2 separate regions of the Homo sapiens genome follow, and region 1 is linked to region 2. The links come from fine-mapping of genetic effects on gene expression. A gene starts in region 2. The other region holds a variant in brackets. All regions are shown on one strand. Distances are from middle to middle.

Region 1 (8,000 bases), 120 kb after region 2:
GAAATGGGGAGAGAAGTGAGGGCAATTAATTTGTTCTCAAGTCCCTGTGCTTTCAGAAACCTAGACATCTTCCCTGGCTCCACCCCCATTATCTGAACGCTTGCTCCCTAATAATTAAGCCCTTTACTGGGGCCAGAATGAGGGACAAACTATGTCACAGAACAGACCCTGACATTTAGGTTTTATTCTCATCTTGGCATCGGTGACATCTGTCTGAGCTATCGCATATTCAAGCGGCTACTCCCAAGATTGCATGTGTTTGTTTAAAAGTGACCTGCTACTACCTCACCATTAGCCCACTGGGACTTGCTTCCTCTTTAAAATTTTATGTAACACTGATGCTCCTGTTTTGATGTGTATGAACCTTAATCTATGTGATATGTGACTTTGTGAACATTGAATTTTTTAATTGAGACCTGGGGCAAGGCATAGTTGTAGCTATTTTTATCCTCTTTCCTGGCACTTCTTCCCTGTTTGGCACTTCCAGCCCCTGCTTCTTATCCCAAGACTGGTATGGCATTGCTGTGTGTTAATTCTGCCCCACAGAGTTTCATAGCAAGCACTAAAGACTGTTACCTGGAAATAAGAAACTCTTGGCCTGTTGGGGGCCTCAGTGCAGGACTCAGGACATCCAGTTGCTAGACTGCAGCTGTTGTCAGCCACCTGTACTTCTCAGGCTCTATCTGAGATATCATCCTTTCTTTCCAACTGTGGGCTTCTTATATCTACTTCTCAGACGTTCATTTTCAAGGGCCAAAATGTTCCCACTCCAACTCACAATCTGTGGGAAAGTAGCAGCTCTGGTTTCTAGAAAAATTCAGAACCTTCCCTTTCCTTCTTTCTGGAGGCAAAGGGTGAAACTTTAAAGCCTGACAGAACAGAAGGCAGTTTATCTCAGCAGTGAAGGGATGGCAGTAATGGGATGGCAGTCAGGGTGGACCAGCAGAATGGGTGAAGAGATGTATTGGATTGGCTGACTTGCTAATCGGAGCTATTCTTTTTTTCCCCTTTTGAAATCAGGTGGAGATGTTACAGCCAAAAATATCTGGTTGGCAGAAAGTGTTCTGGATATCCTGACAGAGCAAAGGTAGCATCCACCACGAAGGGTGGGGTACAGGCCAGATAATGGCCATTAGGAGTGTGGGTGTGGGAAATGGGGATGAAAGGATTGTGTGGCCCAAGAACACCTTAAGTTAGAGAGGGGGAGGCAAGGAGAGGGAGAGACAAGTGTATTGTTGGCAAGTGAAGAAATTAATGCCCAAGGAATGAAGGAATGGGAAAGAGGTCTTTGCCAAAATATCGCATAGCCCAGAAAAACTGGCTTCATCTGATAAGGGTTTATTTTTGATCCAGACCTCCTTGGAATGTTTATCTTAGGGGGAAGTTGGGGAGGAATGAGCTCAGTAGAATTGGGCCAGCCAAACACCCACGCCTGGCAGGTATCCTTTTCTCCCCTGCAAGCTTCTCCATCCAACCCCTGCTCTTTTTGAAGTGGCACAGGGGGCAGTTGGGGTGGAGCAGGTAATAGAGATTAGTGAATCCTGCTGGAGTTTGCATATAGGGTTTGGAGGTTCCAGTGGTAGAGGGTGCATCAGGGGGTACATATTGGGCTTTCTGGCTGATTCTTTCCCTTATCCATCAAAATAAAGGGCCAGAAATTTTATGAGGGCTATTCCACATCTGAACTTGTTTGGAGGTGAGGCTTTCCCCTTGGTTTCAGTCTTCCTCTTGCTTGACTTCTAAGTCTCTTTTCTGATTGAGGACACCATAGTAGTCAAATGATTGAGAGGGCTAATAGTGTCCATACTATCTGTAGTTCAGAAGAATGGACCTCCTCCCAACGTTCACACTTGTGAAAGAGATGGCTGTGTGCTGTGCTCTGCCCAGGTCTGAGAGCCCTGCCCTGTCTGCTGTGCAGTGCCACCTAGTGCTCTGGGCACGGATGTGCAGCCACATCTGGGCCTGGAGCCACTTCTGTTATTGGTGTCATTGCACTAGCACGTGAGATCCTAACAGTCTCTTCTTACCAGATAGGTCTTTGTTCCTTTTTACTGTCCTGGGTCAGGGGGCCTTTCAACTCTTTCTTTCTCTTTATTATGCCATTCCAGGATTCAGGTAATTTCGTTACCTTTGCTAGCAATCTTTCTAAAAAGTGATTTTTCTTATTTTATTCGTGGTACCAAATACGTCCTGTCCCCATACCTTAAAGCTGAATTTCCTGTACAGGCATCAGATAACAGCCAGATAACTGCCCTGTTTTCTACCCTCCAAAAAACTTACATCTTTTGGTGAAAGTCAATACCTAGAAATTTAAAACTGTGTCCTCTCCTACACCCTCCTTCTCACTCCCTTCCAAATGTTTCTAGGGCTGTGGAGTTAAAAGGTAGCAGGTAGGGGAGGAAACGTTCCCCAGTAACCTTGGCTAGTGTATCCATTCTGTGAAAAGAAAAGGCCACAGAGTCTTTTAATTAGGTGGCTTGAGTAGTTTTCCGGAATCAGGATGTGGCCTGCTTGGACTAATTAAACACCATCTCATCTTCCTGCAGTTCCCTGCCTTCCAACAGGGGGGCCAAAGCCATTACAAATTGTTTGCTGGGAGGAGACAGCGTCTCAATTTTGTCACTTAGAGACAGGATTAGAGTTTTAGGAATATCCCCACTGTGTCTTTCTCTCTACTCCTTTTAAAGCAACTGGGAACAAATCTTTCATTACCCCCTTTTCCCTCAGGGATATTCTGAAACTCATGGGAAAAGGAGTTTGCCACCCAAAATCGGGTTCTTTTTTTCAGGTTGTGATTTAGGACAGGTGACTCATTGTGTGGGAGTGGGGACTCGTTGTGTATCAGTGACTAGATAGAGCCAGGGAAAGGTTTGTGGCATGGTGAGCTGCTAATGATAAGCAGACTGAGCTAGCACAGTATGTTCTCAAAACTCCAGGTCCTGAAAGGGTCTTGGCAGTCCCCACATGTTCTTGCACCACACTTAAGAACCACTGACTTAGGGACACTTACCCAGCTTTTCCCCATAGTCTGACCTGGGTAGATACTGTGGTTAATTCTGTCCCTAGTACCTCACATGTTGCTTGGCACATGATAGGCACTCAGTAAATGTTTGAATGAATGAGTCAACAAAGAGAGTTATTTTCTTGGAAGCTAAGTAGTTAGGTGGTAAAAAGAGATTGCTTTCATTTGGCACTTATCTTTATAGGCACTTGGAAGAGAAAATTAGGAAGTTGTCCGTAGCTTAGCCAGTTGATAGTCCAAGATAGATACTAGCATGAGTGAGCAAGCAAAAAATCAAAGCATCTACTCCCAGTGTCAAATCATCAATTATTTCTGAGGCACTGTAGCCAAGCCCAAGAAGCGTGAATTGGGAGGGTGAATAGTTCTAGACAGAGCATAGGAGCCAGTGTGTTTCCTCCCTGCAGGGAGTGGGTCCTGAAGAGCAGCATCCTCATTGCCATGGCTGTTTACACGTACCTCCGCCTCATCGTGGACCACCATGGGACTGCCCAGCTCCAGGCCCTGCGACAGAAGGAAGTAGACTTCTGCATCTCACTGCTTCGGGAACGGGTGAGGGAACAGGACAAAAATAATGTGGGGAAGTGAGACTCAGGCTAAGATACCTCTGGAGGTTTATGCAGTGGAGTCAGAAATACCTTGTTAGAGATGAAGGTGCATCAAGATCTGGTGTTTTCCATCATTCATCAACAGATGAGGGTAGAAAGGAGGGGGAGTTAGTGTAAAATAGCCCTAATTCCTAGAAATGCTACCTGTTAAGCTGGCATCTTTGGGATTTCCCTGGTCAGCTTCAAGGATACTGTTGTATACCACAGACATAAGCTGTCCTTGTGTGCCTACCATGACACAGTCCCCCACCTACTCTCCTGGGTAATTCCCATGGTCTAGTGGGATTATGAATTGTCCTCTATCAGACCTCCCATGTGGCAATTAAAAATTTTTTTTACTTTTTATTTTTGTAGATACTGGGCCTTGCTTTGTTGCCCAGGCTGATCTCAAACTCCTGGCCTCAAGTGATCCTCCCACCTCAGTCTCCCAAAGTGTTGGGATTATAGGCGTGAGCCACTCTGCCCAGCCTAAAATTAATGTTAGATAAAAAGTTAAAATTCACTTCTCTAGTTGCATTAGCTACACGTTGCTAATGGGTTTCATTTAGACTACACAGATA[T/C]AGACATTTCTACCACAGAATCGGACCCACAGAATTAGATACTGCAGAATTTTGTTAGACAAAATAAGTTTGAGGTTAGGGTTTCTGGGGCTCAACTTGCCAGTCCCATCCTTTTGAAACTTTAATCTTCCTTGAACTGGATTGAAACAGTTCTGAGTGGAGAGGGAGGTAGATTAATGTGAAAGCCAGCAGGGCTTCAGCACTTCCCACTAACCTCTCATCCTTGATATCAGTCCCCAGCTTCCAGCTCTCTTCCCCTGAACAGCTAGGAGCCAATCCTTTGGTTCCAGAAGAAATCATAGTTTCTTCAACCCTCTTTCCTTCCCTCCCTAGAACATGTTGTTCCTTTGTCCTCCCTCCAGCAGGTAAACAATCCATGTTTTTATTCTCTTTCCTGTCCCCCACTTCCTCTTCCCTATCAAGTTCATGGAATGTCTGATGATTGGTCGGGATCTCGTAAGACTACTTCAGAATGTTGCTAGGATACCAGAATTTGAACTGCTTTGGAAAGATATTATCCATAATCCTCAGGCCTTGAGTCCTCAGTTCACAGGTAAGTAGGGTCTTAGGCATCCTGTCCTTGAGAGCTGGGAGTTCAATGTGTATGTCTTGCTTGAATCAAGAAGGTAGAGGTTGGTGGGTAGGAGAGTCTTTGGTGGTCAGATTTAGGAAGCCTGGGACAGGGCAAGCTTTGCCAAGTACAACTGCGAATGGCAGAGGTACAGAACAATTCATGTAGTTCCTAGACAGCCCCTACTTGGCAGACTCCAGCTGCCACATTACTACTAAGAAAAAAGTGAGACAGATAACTGTAGTCCTCCTCCCCTCTTCCTGGCAGCTCCTTGGCTCAGGAGGTGAGCCAGTGGCCAGTGTTCAGCTTCACGGAGTCTAGCAGGGGAGTCAGAGGTCAACTCGTGAGACTGAGTCAGTAGAGGGCTGGAATTAGTCCTGTAAGAGAAGGCCCCTCCCTGGGAACAGTCTTGCCTCGAATTCCAAGGATCCAGCTTGGGCAAAATCCACTTTGGAGGAGGGAGTCTCCGTGTGCCTCCTCCCGACAAGGTCCTTTTTATATCCCTTTCCCTTTCCCAGGGTCCTGCTATGTTCTGAACAATAACTGTACAGCTTTGCTCCCCACCCCACCTCAACACACACGTGCTTGTGATCGTGCATGCACCCGCTCCCCTCCTACACACACACACACACACACACACACACTCACTCTGAAGGCAGTTGTCCAGGACCTGGGAAGTCAGGAAAGAAGAAAGTGCTGGAAATTGTAGTACTCTTATATTGAACATCTATTTCATTGCTTTAAGTGCCTCCACTGTGTTAGACAAACATGTGTTACCTCATTTAATCTTCTGGACAGCCCTGTGAGTATTTTAGTTTCTACATTTATACATAAAGAAACTGAGGTTTGAGGCCGGGCGCGGTGGCTCACACCTGTAATCCCAGCACTTTGGGAGGCCGAGGCGGGCGGATCACGGGGTCAAGAGTTCAAGACCATCCTGGGCAACATGATGAAACCCTGTCTATACTAAAAATGCAAAAATTAGCTGGGCATGGTGGCACATGCCTGTATTCCCAGCTACTCGGGAGGCTGAGGCAAGAGAATCGCTTGAACCCAGGAGGTGGAGTTTGCAGTAAGCCGAGATCGCGCCACTGCACTCCAGCCTGGCGACAGAGTGAGACTCTGTCCCAAAAAAAAGAAAAGAAAAGAAAAGAAACTGAGGTTTAAGGAGATGAAGTAATTTGCCCAAGGCTGTACAGCTGGTAGGTTAGGTGACAGAGGCAGGTCTCTTTTTTTTTTTTTTTTTTGAGACGGAGTCTTGCTCTGTCCCTCAGGCTGGTGTGCAATGGCGTGATCTCAGCTCACTGCAACCTCCGCCTCCTGGGTTCAAGCGATTCTCCCGCCTCAGCCTCCCAGGTAGCTAGGATTACAGGCACCTGCCATCATGCCCAGGTAAATGTTGTATTTTTGTAGAGATGGAGTTTCACCATGTTGGCCAGGCTGGTCTTGAACTCCTGACCTCAAGCAATCCACCTGCCTTGGCCTCCCAAAGTGCTGAGATTACAGGCATGAGCCACCGCACCTGGCCTCTTTTTTTTTTTTTTTTTTTCTGTTTTTTAAGATGGGGTGTCACCATGTTGCCAAGGCTGGTCTTGAACTCGTAGGCTCAAGGGAGCCACCTGCCTCGGCCTCCCAAGGTGCTAGGATTACAGGTGTGAGCCACCATGCTGGTCTTTTAAATTATTTTTGTTCTCTCATGTCAGGCAGGTAATGTGGGGACATGGTAACAAGGTTTGAGGGAGGCACATCTCACGCATGAGTGTGAAAAACCAATAATCATGCTTATGAGCTACAATAGGATCTGGATCCACATGTTTCTGACTCCAGGGCTCATGCTCATGCCACAAATAACATTGATTCCAGGACCCAAGGATGGGATCATCAGGAGCAGGAAGAGCAGCCAGGGTTTCCCATATTTTTCCCTTAACTTTCCCATCTGTTACCAGTGGGAATCATGTGGGTAGGAGACTCTGGAAGACCAGCAGAAGACAGGAAGTAATATAGCTGGGTCCTGGGGATAGTGGTTGTTTGGAGCAGAACACGTAAGTGCTGGTTGGAATCCCCACCTGTGCTTGACCTCCCTTGGTCTTGTCTTGGAATTTCTCCGTGAGCAAGACTACTGGCCATCAGTACCTGGCCCAGGTTCCCAACATGCCTTTCATTCTTTCTGGTCCTTAGGCTTCCTCTTTTCTCTTCCCTTCCACATTTGATTCAGGTATCCTACAGCTTCTTCAGTCAAGAACATCCCGAAAATTCCTAGCATGTCGTCTAACCCCGGACATGGAGACTAAACTCCTCTTCATGACATCCCGGGTAAGCTAAGGTGTTGCAGCAAGAGAAGAGGTCACACGCTGGCTGGGCTTCTTGCTTCGGTCTGTGGAGCTGTTACCATTGTTTACTAACCAGTAGAATGGTGGCTAAATGATCGTACCTGATCTACCTGGCTACTGGCTTCTTTGTCCTTTATTCATTCTGTGCCTACATATTGAGCATGGTGCTAAGGATTGGGGGTACACTGTCGAATAAGAGAGATACAGTTCCAGCTGTTGTGAAGCTTTTAGTTTATCTAAAGTAGTCACTAAACCAATAATTATATAGAAATACTAGTATCATTTACAAGTGTGAAATATTCTATAAAGGGGAGAGTGAAAGTGTTCACGCTAAGAAACCCACGATTGCTCCAGGAGAACCATGAGGTCTCAGGAAGAAAGCTATGTATGTTTCCAGACTTGACTGAATAATGGCAGAATTACTTGAGCATGTTAAAGATGCAGCTTCCTGGATCCCACTCTCCTAGATAATTTGATTGAGGAATTTGTGGGGTTTTTTTTTTGGTTTTGTTTGTTTGTATTTTGAGATGGAGTTTCGTTCTTGTTGCCCAGGCTAGAGTGCAGTGGCGCGATCTCGGCTCTCCGCAGCCTCCGCCTGTTGGGTTCAAGTGATTCTCCTGCCTCAATCTCCCAAGTAGCTAGGATTACAGGCATGCACCACACCTGGCAAATTTTGTATTTTTAATAGAGACGGGATTTTTCCATGTTGGTCAGGCTGGTCTCGAACTTCCGACCTCAGGTGATCCACCTGCCTCAGCCTCCCAAAGTGCTGGGATTACAGGCGTGAGCCACTGCACCCAGCCAGAATCTGTTTTTAGCAGACTTCCCAGGCCATTCCTCTGCGGCCAGTCTGGCTGTCGAGAACTGCTTTCCTAATCAGCTTTCCCAAGTCACCCAGAATAATTGTCCAGG
Region 2 (11,528 bases):
GCCTCGCCTCCTGTGGGGTAAGAAGAGAGCAGATACAACAGCTGTTTCTGCCCCCACCTCTCCTGCCAGCCTTAGTCTCTGCCACCCCCACCCTGCCTTGCCAAGAGCTCAGGTCCCGGGGGAGTCTGGGGGTGGCAGGGCAAAGCTCCCATGATATGGGGAAGCAGAGATGTAGGGTGCTGTGCCCCTTCCCAACTCGACCTCCACAGGACCTCCCCTTTCTCCTCCTCCCATTTTTGGCCCAGACCTCTTGACTCCTCTTTCCCCCCATTCTTACCTCTTTGTTTCCCCATCTCCCCTGCCCCCAAGTCCTCTCAGAACTGCCACCACGTAAAATCCCAGGCTGCTTTAGGGCTCCAGGTGACCTCCAGCTGCCCCTCTGGCATGGAGCAGGTAATCAAGCTACCAGCACCCCTCCCTCAAGCACCCCTTATCCCCTCATCAGCCACAGCTTGGGTTCCATCTCCCCCATGTCTCTGTGACAACTGCTTCTCAGGTCCGGAGTTCAGATGACACTCACAAGGGCCCCATTGAAGAACTGGGATGTCATTCGATCAGGGGCCATTGTCCAGCCCCCTAGGCCTGGGGAAGGATGGGGACATCTGATCCGAGACACCTGAGCTGCCCCCTCTGGGGTTGTGGAAGGCCAGACTGTCCCAGGGCCAAGGGAAAGAGGCCCCCCGGCTTGGCAGTCTTCTCTCTCAACAGACCACTCCTTTCTCCTTTCTTCTCCTACTCTCTCCCAGCCCCTTGAACTCAAAGGACCGCATGCTTTCAGCCCTTTCTCTCCCCCAACACACAGCAGCCCCATTCCCCTTGCTCCCACTATCCCCGAATCAACCAGGAGTGAGCAGTTGCAGGGACAACGCCTGCAGGTCTCCTCTCCCACTCCCTGGGAACTCTGGCTCCAAGGAAAAGGCTCAGACATTCCTCTCTCCCCTTCTGCCACCCACCAGATGGAAGGGATAATTTTGCAGAGGCAATGGGAGCATATCCCAAAGAAGCCAAAATGACATGTTCAGGAGAGAACAGAGTTGAAGGACCAAAAGGGGCCCCCAGCTGCTGACAGGAAACTCAGAGTCAGTGAGACCTCCCTCCCCCAGAAGGCGTACGCCACCCACTGGGGCTGCCATCCCCTCTACCAGGCTGACCGAGGGTACCAGACTGACTCCTTGCTAGGGGTGGGCAGCAGAAGGAAGGCTGTAGTGGACACCCCAGCCCACCACCCTCAACAGCAGAGCTTGGCTATGCTAGACAGGCAAGGTCCAGGGTAAAAATAGAGCCAGAGGAAGCATGGCCCAGTCCTGTGACCACCCCTGCCTGCCCCACCCTCCTCAATCCCTGCCTGGGCAGCCACTGCAGACATCTACCACAGGCCTCTGGAGCCAGCCCAGCTCCAACTGCTCTCTCTCCATGCCCCAACCCTGATTCCCTCTGGCTGGGGTACAGACTGAGGGACACAGAGAACAGGCCTGCACTTAGGTCTCTTGGGGTTTCCCTCACATTGTAAAATCTCAGGGAAAGATCAATTGCAGTAGGGCTCTAATCCCACAGCTATTTGAGCTGTCAGCCAGGGCCAGTCCTGAGGGTTCCCCTCACCTAGACCCCAGGTACTCCGGGCCTGGTCCTCAGCTCACTTCCATGATGGGGGTGGGTAGGTGCACTGCTGCAATGGGCTCTGAGCTGGAGACGGCGATGGAGACCCTCATCAACGTGTTCCACGCCCACTCGGGCAAAGAGGGGGACAAGTACAAGCTGAGCAAGAAGGAGCTGAAAGAGCTGCTGCAGACGGAGCTCTCTGGCTTCCTGGATGTGAGCATAGAGTGGTGGAGTGGGAGTGGAGTGGGTGAAGGTTGGGGGAATGGGGTGGACACCCCCTTGCTATCTCCCCACCCCACCTCCAGCTCAGCCTAGCCTCTTTCTTTCCTTTCCCAGGCTTCTCTCCTGGGTTTTTCCAGGCTCCCCTACTCCTCCTGGGTCAAGTCAAAATGCCCTGGTTTATTGATCACCTGTTAAGTGTTAGGCCCTGTGTAGATTCATCAATAATAAGACACACAGACTTAGAAGGGAAAGATTGACACTTAAAAGTAAACCATGAACTCCAGGAAATACACAGAGCCTTAACAGATGTACCAGAAAGGGTTATGAGAGATTATTAACCTGATTGAAGTCAGATGGCTTTCCTGAAGAGGTGGCACTTGAACCATGGATTTCCATTGGAAGATTATCTGGGTAAATGCAGACATTTTAGGAGGAGGTAACTGAATGAACAAAAGCATGGGAGAAAGAAGAATGTGGAGCATGTCAGTAGTTTCATTCAACTGGCATGAAGGATGTAGAAAACTAGGCTGCTAAGGCTAACCAGGGCCCCAAAGTAAAGAAGCCTCAGGATACGGTAGAAAGTGCACCGGTTTTGAGGTTTTATTGGACTGGGTTCAAATTCCAGCCCTGCTACTTTCTAGCTGTGGGACTTTGGGCATATTTATTTAACCACCGATTACCAATTTGTTTCTTCTCTAGAATGGAAATAATGAAACATACCTCACATTATTTGTATTAGAATTAAATTAGACAGTGCTTGTAAAGCTCCTAGTGTAGTGCTTGCTTTATTATAGGCACTGAACATACGGTAACTGGTGTCATTATTATTCATTCTGCCAGGTGAAAGAGCTTATGCTGTAGGCAACAGAAGCCCTCAAGACCTTTGAGGAGGCCTAGAAGAGTCCCATAATTCAATGCAGTTCCTCTCGCTCATCTTTGCCTCCTGCTCCTCAACCACCCCCTTGCCTCTGACTCAGTGCTGTACCCTTCCCTATACACCTCCCTCTTCCTCTCCTCCCACCACAGGCCCAGAAGGATGTGGATGCTGTGGACAAGGTGATGAAGGAGCTAGACGAGAATGGAGACGGGGAGGTGGACTTCCAGGAGTATGTGGTGCTTGTGGCTGCTCTCACAGTGGCCTGTAACAATTTCTTCTGGGAGAACAGTTGAGCAGACAGCCACATTGGGCAGCGCCCTTCCTCTCCACCCTCCCAGACCTGCCTCTTCCCCCTGCTTCCACCTCACCCCACTTATCCCTCTCCATAACCCCACCCTTGCCCACCCCACCCCCACCCCCACCAAGGGCGCAAGAGTAGCGGTCCAAGCCTGCAACTCATCTTTCATTAAAGGCTTCTCTCTCACCAGCCATCCGATGTCTGTCTCCTCTGGGATCTGGAAGTGGGTGGAGACGTGAAGACTGTTCACTCTCAACTCCCCTTATTTGGGGAAGTGTCTTATTTAGAAAGAGGTCAAGGTGCATTACATCTTCCTACTTGAGGAATGCTCAAGGTCCAGAAATGTGGGGGTTCAAGGTTCCAGTTGGAAGTCGAGGAGACATCAGCTTCTCAACTATAAAACCAGAGGAAGAAATAATCTTTTTTTTTTTTTTTTTTTTTTGGAGACACAGTCTGGCTCTGTCACCCAGGCTGGAGGGCAGTGGCACGATCTCGGCTCACTGCAACCTCCGCCTCCCAGGTTCAAGCGATTCACCTGCCTCAGCCTCCCGAGCAGCTGGGACTACAGGCGCCTGCCACCACGCCCGGCTAATTTTTTGTATTTTTAGTACAGACGGGGTTTCACCATGTTGGCCAGGATGGTCTCGATCTCCTGACCTCGTGATCCCCCCGCCTCGGCCTCCCAAAGTGCTGAGATTACAGGCATGAGCCACCGCGCTAGGCCGAAAGAATCTTCTTTCAATCAACGAACATTTACTTAAGTGGTACTATGTGTAAACACTGTAGGAACTGAGGCTCCAGCATTAAGCAAAATAACCACGATCCTTACCCTCACATGGGTAAGGATGCTGGGCCATTACTTACACACAGACACACACAAACACATACACACACGCACACGCCCAAGTGCCAGGAAGGAAAATGAAAGGGTCTTGACGTGCCAGTGGAGCAGAGGAAGGGTTGCAGATGTGTCATTCTCTCATTCCTCAAACATATGTACACTGTATTGTGCACATAGTCATTAGAAAAATCCCTTATTGAGGCCGGGCACAGTGGCTCACGACTGTAGTCCCAGCACTTTGGGAGACAGAGGCGGGCAGATCACTTGAGGTCAGGAGTTGGAGACCAGCCTGGTGAAACCCCATCTCTACTAAAAATACAAAAATTAGCGGGGCATGGTGGTACGCGCCTGTAATTCCAGCTACTCAGGAGGCTGAGGCAGGAGAATCGCTTGAACCTGGGAGGCGGAGGTTGCAGTGAGCCGAGATGGTACCACTGCACTCCAGTCTGGGTGACACAGCGAGACTCCATCTGCAAAAAGAAAAAAAAAAGAAAGAGAGAAAAATCCCTTATTGAGCAGGAAACATAGCTTATGCCCATAATCCTAGGAGTCGGGAGGCTGAGGTGAGAGGATCACCTGAGCCCAGTAGGTCAAGGCTGCAGTGATCCGTGATTCATTGCGCCACTGACTCCAGCCTGGACAACAGAGCCAGACCCCGTCTCAAAATAACAACAACAAATCAGAGAGAGAAAAGAGAAATCCCTATGTAGGTCTGCAACAAAATAAACACGGATGGCAGGTGTGGGGGGAGGACATGGAAACGCAATCGAGGACGCAAAGGTGCCCCACCCCAAGAAGGAGTAAACAGTATCTAGGCCAAGTTGGGGAGGGGAGGAAGTGAGGAGGAAAACATGGACGGGCGGTGGTGTTGGCCGGTGCAGGATGGGAGAGGAATTTGCTCCTAATACTGGCCTCCTGGGCCTTGGCTGGAGCATTTACGGCACTTCACAACTCTCAGACTGGGCGAGTGGCCATGAGGGGAAAACCAGTGCAAATTCCCCAGGCCCAATTGTCCGGAAGAAGACGAGGCAAGTCCGCGTAAAGATTTTTAGACGGTGTACCTTGGCTAGGGAACGGAGGGGCGAGGGAATTCGGGACCCAAATCCCCTCTAAGGCCCACATTAATAACTACCCCCAAGAGGTTGCAGCGCAACCACTACTGGAACGTGAAGTCCCCGGCACGCCCCAACAACAGGACCATTGGCCACGCCCCTAGGGGCGGGGCACTGCATGGAAAGCCCCGCCTTCGCCCTAAGGCTCCGCCTCTGACCTCTGCGCAGGCGTAGCTCAAATCTTTCCCGCCCTCTAGTCGTGCGCGGATCTGACGCCTGACGTAATTGCGTAGACGCCATTTTAGCCGGTCAGACAAGCACTGGACGTGGCGGCCATTTTGTTTTGGACACCGAGCAGGAGCTGGCGGCCGCTGCAGACGAAAGGCAGGAAAGGGCAGGCCGGGTGAGCAGACGGATCGGCCGACTAGACAGCCAACCAGCAACAACGAACTGAGCTCGCATACTACCGCTTACGCATCTAACCAACCGCCCATCTAGCTAACCCGAGCCCCTCCACCGTCAACTCAGGTTCGGCCGGTCCCCGGCCCGCCTGCCGGAGCCGTGGTGGCAGCCCCGGGAGGAGCACTGGCGTCTGTTTCCTTCGGTGAGTTTCGGTAGTGAGAAGGAGCCGGGGGAGGTGCGGTCTTGAGGAGCGGAAGGGGCCGGCGGACGCGGAAAGGGGGTGGTGGCATGTGGACATAGCTACGGTGTTGGAGCGTGGAGGCCCCGGGGAGGAGGCGGAGCCCCTGCGAAGGGGCGGGGGAGGGGCTGAACTGGAACCTGGTGGCGGGATTGATGGAGGTTGGGGTTTGATAGGATAAAAAGGAAACTTGGCGGGTAGAGCAGAAGTGGAAGTCTTGACAGGGCTTTGAGGATGGTAGGGAGATTAAGAAGTACAAGACTTTGAGGAATGTTGGAAATTAATGGCGGCTTTAGGGTTAAGTTTTGTGGAGGGCTCTTTGCGAGCTAATTCCCAGGTGAATTTAGAAAACCTTTCCTACTCCCCCAGATCGTCAGTTTCTTGTTAAAGTCCCTACTTGATTCTGGAGTTGAAAGCCACTTTTGAAACTAGGCATGCATATATATATGTATATATATACATACATATATATATATATTTTTTTTTGGGGGGGGACGGAGTTTCGCTCTTGTTGCCCAGGCTGGAGTGCAATGGCACGATCTCAGCTCACTACAACTTCCGCCTCCCGGGTTCAAGCGATTCTCCTGCCTCAGCCTCCGGAGTAGCTGGGATTACAGCCATGCGCCACCACGCCCGGCTAATTTTGTATTTTTAGTAGAGACATTTCTCCATGATGGTCAAGCTGGTCTCGAACTCCCAACCTCAGGTGATCCGCCCGCCTCGGCCTCCCAAAGTGCTGGGAAAACAGGCGTGAGCCACCGCGCCCGGCCCTGCCTGTATTTTCACTGTAGATCAGTGGTTCTCAACTTTAGCTGCACATTAGAAGCACCTAGGTAGCTTTCCCCCGACCCCACAATTGGTTCATTTCCAAACCTCATTACCAGAGATTGTGGTTTAATTGATCTAGGCCCAGATGTCTGTATTTTCTATTTTTTTAATTAATTTATATTTTTATAGAAACGGGGTCTTACCATGTTGCCCAGGCTGGTCTCGAGCTCCAGGGCTCAAGCATTCCTCCCGCCTTGGCCTCCCAAAGTGCTGAGATTACAGGCGTGAAGCACCGCGCCCGCCCTGTCCGGCCCTATGTTTTAAAAGCTCCTTGGATAAGTCATATGTAGTCAAGGTTGAAAATGACTGCTCTAGAGTAAAAGCCAAACTCGGCCCGGTGCGGTGGCTCACGCCTGTAATCCCAGCACTTTGGGAGGCCCAGGTGGGTGGATCAGGTGAGGTCAGGAGTTCAAGACCACCCTGGCCAACGTGGAGAAACCCCGTCTCTACTAAAAATAAAAAAAAATTAGCCGGGCATGGTGGCACGTGCCTGTAGTCCCAGCTACTCAGGAGGCTGAGGCAGGAGAATGGCTTGAACGGGGAGGCAGAGGTTGCAGTGAACTGAGATCACGCCTCTGCACTCCAGCCTGGGCGACAGAGCCAGACTCTGTCTCAAAAAAAAAAAAAAGCCAGACTCCATACTTTGATTGCTAGATTGGCTTCTGCCGTTTTTGAGAAATTCCCGGGTATTTTGTGGGCCTTGAAGTTTGTTTGTTTGTTTGGGGTTATTTGTTTGTTTTAAAGAGATGGGGTCTCAGGCCAGAGTGCAGTGGCATGATCACGGCTCTTTGCAGCCTCCAACCCCTGGGCTCTAGCGATTCTCCCACCTCAGCTCCCCTGAGTAGCTAGGACAACAGGTGCTGGCCACCATGCACCGCTAATTTTTTTTTTTTTTTTTCTTAGTAGAGACTGGGTCTCGCTTTGTTACCCAGGCTGGTCTCTAACTCCTGGCTTCAAACCATCCTGTGCCCTTGCCCTCCCAAAGTGTTAGGGTTACAGGCGGTGAACCACCATACCCAGCCACCTTGAAGTTATAATAATCTGAGGTAATTGCCATAGAAACTTAAGAACTTTTGCTGGGCGTTGGGTCCCAGTGATCCCAACACTGGGAGGCCAAGGTGGGAAAATCCTTTGAGGCCAGGAGATTACGGCTGCAGTGGCCACTGCATTCCAGCCTGAGTGACAGAGCGAGACCCTGTCTCAAAAAAAAAAAAAAAAGAAATTTAAGCACTTGAAATGTGCCCTCGTGTGCTCTTTAGTCATCAGTGATAAGGCCTTTTTATTTATTTTTGGCTTGGGCCTTGCCACTTATAGAAATGATGTCACTATTGTGATTTGCTCATTTTACGTATTGTTCTTTGTAGATTCTCGGGATTCGAAGATGGCTGCACAGTCAGCGCCGAAAGTTGTGCTAAAAAGCACCACCAAGATGTCTCTAAATGAGCGGTGAGGCAGCCAACAGCAACTTCAACTCCTTCCTAAGAAAACATTACTTAACTTGGCCCTGGGGTCCAATGCACAAAGCCAATTTTAAGCTAAATACCAACAGAAGGCTACAGACCTCTGTTCTTAGTTGCATCTCATGTGGTACACAAAACAAATTGGGCGGTTGTTTCAAAACCCCTTATCAGTAGACTTTTATGTTAAGCTGTCTGAAGTATTTATTTGGTGGGATGTATTTTAAAAGACTCCTAACACTCTTCCTTTTCACATTTTTTTACGTTGATACTGGGGTCGTGCAGCACGGTAGCATGGTACCCTGGCTACAGTAGGCTTGCTGCCCAGTCCAAGGCCAGCAGTGTTGTGTCTGGCCTGTAAGAGGCAGGTAGCAAGCCATGAATATGTCCAAAGGCCCTTGAATGTCATTCTTGGGCCTTGTAAGAGGCACTCGCTTTGCTCCATTTCACTTTCTTTCCATTCTGCTTTTAGTTTGGTTTTGTTTTGGATTCTTCTACAGTTAAGTGTTCTTCTCTTCCATTCCATTATACTTCCTTGACAGAAATAATGAGTCTCTTCACAGGCTCATAAATGATCAAACTGATGTAACTTTGAAAAGTAACTACTTGGAGTCAGAAAAAGTGATGATTGGAGACTAAGAAAAGTAAAGATATTCAAAGGCAGTTTCTATCTCTGACAACTTTGTTCATTAAGAGTGCCTTTGTTTAGGCGCGGTGGCTCATGCCTGTAATCCCAGCACTTTGGCAGGCTGAGGCGGGCGGATCACGAGGTCAGGAGTTTGAGATCAGCCTGCCCAACATGGTGAAACCCTGTCTCTACTAAAAATAGAAAAATTAGCTGGGCGTGGTGGCGTGTGCCTATAATCCCAGCTACTCAGGAGGCTGAGGTAGGAGAATCACTTGAACCCGTGAGGCGAAGGTTGCAGTGAGCCAAGATCCTGCCACTGCACTCCAGCCAGGGCAACAGAGGACAGAGTGAGGCTCCGTTTCAAAAAAAAGAATGCCTTTGATCAGTGATTTCATTAAGTTGACTTTCGACCACTGAAATTTACTTAATGTCTATTTTTGCCTCTTCTGAGGCATATGTGCTTCTCTCCTTATCTCTTTGGCTATGATAAGCTAATTATTTATGTTTGCATAATATTTATGTTTGCATGTTAGTGACATATATTTTAAAATGTGATACACTCCTGTAATTTATGAGAGTATGTTCATTGCTGTGAGCTTTGAAGGTGCTCTAATCCTTCCTCATATTTGGCCTTAGAATGCACCTCGGATCCCCCAAGGTTTAGGCTTTCTTCATTTGTCTTTGAAACTATATCTTCTGTCTCTTGTCATATCTGCTTATTGCGTGTTTTTCATACCTTCCACCTCTCTAAAAGCCGTTACCTGAGCCCTCGTTATCACTTTTGGTTGAATGTGCTGCACTTAGCTGCATTTCTAAGTTTCTGATTCTTGCAAGTTTGTGGAAACAGAGGAGTCTTTAACCCACATCAGCCTTGATCTAAGTGTACCACTTTACTTAAAAGTTCGTGGGATCTGGAGCTCCTGGTCTAGCAAGCCATGAAAATGCCAATAAATGTTTGTAATAAAGCTTTTATTTAAACATCCATTTTGTTCGACCTTGAAGCTTTACTAATATGCTGAAGAACAAACAGCCGACGCCAGTGAATATTCGGGCTTCGATGCAGCAACAACAGCAGCTAGCCAGTGCCAGAAACAGAAGACTGGCCCAGCAGATGGAGAATAGACCCTCTGTCCAGGCAGCATTAAAACTTAAGCAGGTGAGAGAATGGGTCTTAATGCTCCAGAAGCAGCTGGTGATCTCTGTGAGGGAGTCCACTGAGGCTGTCAGGACGTGATGGATGATTGCAAAGTGGCTCAGGGCAAAAAGCTGAAACTTCTCTGGAAGAAAGAGAAGTTCAGAGAATTCCAATTTTGGCAGGTACCAATAAGTAACTTTTTACTGTCTTTCTCTTTTAGGGAGTTTGCCATCTATGTGGCCTGTTTCTGTTACCAATGAGTATTAATCTTTTGTTTTCTGATCCTTAACCCTTAACATAGATTAATGGCTTATTCCACAAAGAAACTTTATTTCAGCTTTAGATAATCTCACAGCATCCTTTACTCTCTGTTAAATGATTTACCCAACAGGGAAATAATTTTATTCTTTTTCCCATAGTGCAGGGAGTTTGCATGGCCTTAGTCAAAGGTTTTCTTTTTTTTTTTTTTTTTAGACGGAGTCTTGCTCTGTCGCCCAGGCTGGAGTGCAGTGGCACGATCTCGGCTCACTGCAAGCTCCGCCTCCCGGGTCCATACCATTCTCCTGCCTCAGCCTCCCGAACAGCTGGGACTAAAGGTGCCCGCCACCACACCCAGCTAATTTTTTTGTATATTTAATAGAGACAGGGTTTCACCATACTAGCCAGGATGGTCTCGATCTCCTGACCTCGTGATCCACCCGCCTCGGCCTCCCAAAGTGCTGGGATTACAGGCTTGAGCCACCGCGCCCAGCAGTCAAAGGTTTTCAATGCTAAAATATACAGAGTAGAGTGACCCTCATTTCCACAGCACCTAAAGTTTTACCAGTAAAGTGGAGCAAGAATACTGAGTAATTTGAGTTAGGGGTTCTCTTTTTCAAATTTACAGTGAGAGATAATCCTATTCAGACCTGAAATAAAACCTGCTCTTTATTATTCATAGAATTTATATGCAAGTCCGGACAGTGGCTGTGGAAGGATATGTCCAAGCTGTGGCTGGGCGTCTGGAGGGCAGTGCCATGCAACTGTAAGGGCTTTGGTAGCATTGCATGGCTATGCATAAATTCAGCAGTTAAATATAACACCCTTACACCCCCACCCTGAACCATTGGGCTCACTGACCAAAAATAAACAAGGGTGTCTGCTTCGGCTACCTTAAGCCTTGGAGTGACTGGATTCCTCCCTGACTCAGGAAAGCAGCAAAAGGCACCATTTTCCAAGAGTAAATGGAAGTTGCTGAAGATGAATCTCTGACAGATCATTCCAAAGGACCTTTCAACAAGAAGCTTTAAGTATAGGCTCTGCAGGAAGTAGTCCCTATCCAGAGTAGTACTATTAAATAGAATTTTTTTATGTTTTTGGTTTGGTTTGGTTTGGTTTGTTTTGAGACGGAGTCTTGCTCTGTCACCCAGGCTGTAGTGCAGTGGTGCAATCTCAACTCACTGCAGCCTCCGCCTCCCGGGTTCAAGCGATTCTCCTGTCTCAGCTACAGGCGCCCGCCACCACACCCGGCTAATTTTTGTATTTTTAGTAGAGACGGAGTTTTGTCATGTTGGCCAGACTGGTCTTGAACTCCTGACCTCAAGTGATCTGCCTGCCTCAGTATCCCAAAGTGTTCAGATTACAGGCATGAGCTACCGTGCCCAGCCAGAACTTTCTACAATGATGGAAATGTTCTGTATTTGCTCTCCGGTACAGTAGCCACTAGTCACATGTGGCTATTGAAAACTTTAAATGTGACTAGTGCAATTAAGGAGCTTAATTTTTTTTAATTTAATTTTAGGCCAGGCCTGTAATCCCAGCACTCTGGGAGGCCAAGGCAGGCGGATCACTTGAGGTCAGGAGTTTGAGACTAGCCTGGCCAATGTGGCAAAACCCCATCTCTACTAAAAAAAAAAAAAAGCCGGGCATGGTGGCGCATACCTGTAATCCCAGCTACTCAAGAGGCTAAGGA

The links.
Region 1: its variant is fine-mapped to the expression of CHTOP in whole blood (INTERVAL, PIP above 0.99).

Annotation. Positions count from the first base shown.
Region 1 is chr1:153,747,669-153,755,668 of GRCh38, forward strand. INTS3 (integrator complex subunit 3) reads left to right here. Exons shown (of 30, transcript NM_023015.5): 6 at 1,021-1,087; 7 at 3,427-3,571; 8 at 4,611-4,740; 9 at 6,974-7,071. It overlaps LOC124904820 (small nucleolar RNA U13), which reads right to left and starts at 6,559; the gene lies at 6,456-6,559. The variant T/C (reference allele first, on the strand shown) is at 4,188.
Region 2 is chr1:153,628,851-153,640,378 of GRCh38, forward strand. It overlaps CHTOP (chromatin target of PRMT1), which reads left to right and starts at 5,216. Exons shown (of 6, transcript NM_015607.4): 1 at 5,216-5,493; 2 at 7,722-7,803; 3 at 9,445-9,598. The coding sequence starts at 7,739. It overlaps S100A1 (S100 calcium binding protein A1), which reads left to right. Exons shown (of 3, transcript NM_006271.2): 2 at 1,659-1,812; 3 at 2,848-3,189. The coding sequence starts at 1,672. The coding sequence ends at 2,991. It also overlaps a transcript of S100A13 not described here. RefSeq lists enhancers at 1-552, 5,190-5,299 and a silencer at 5,640-5,719.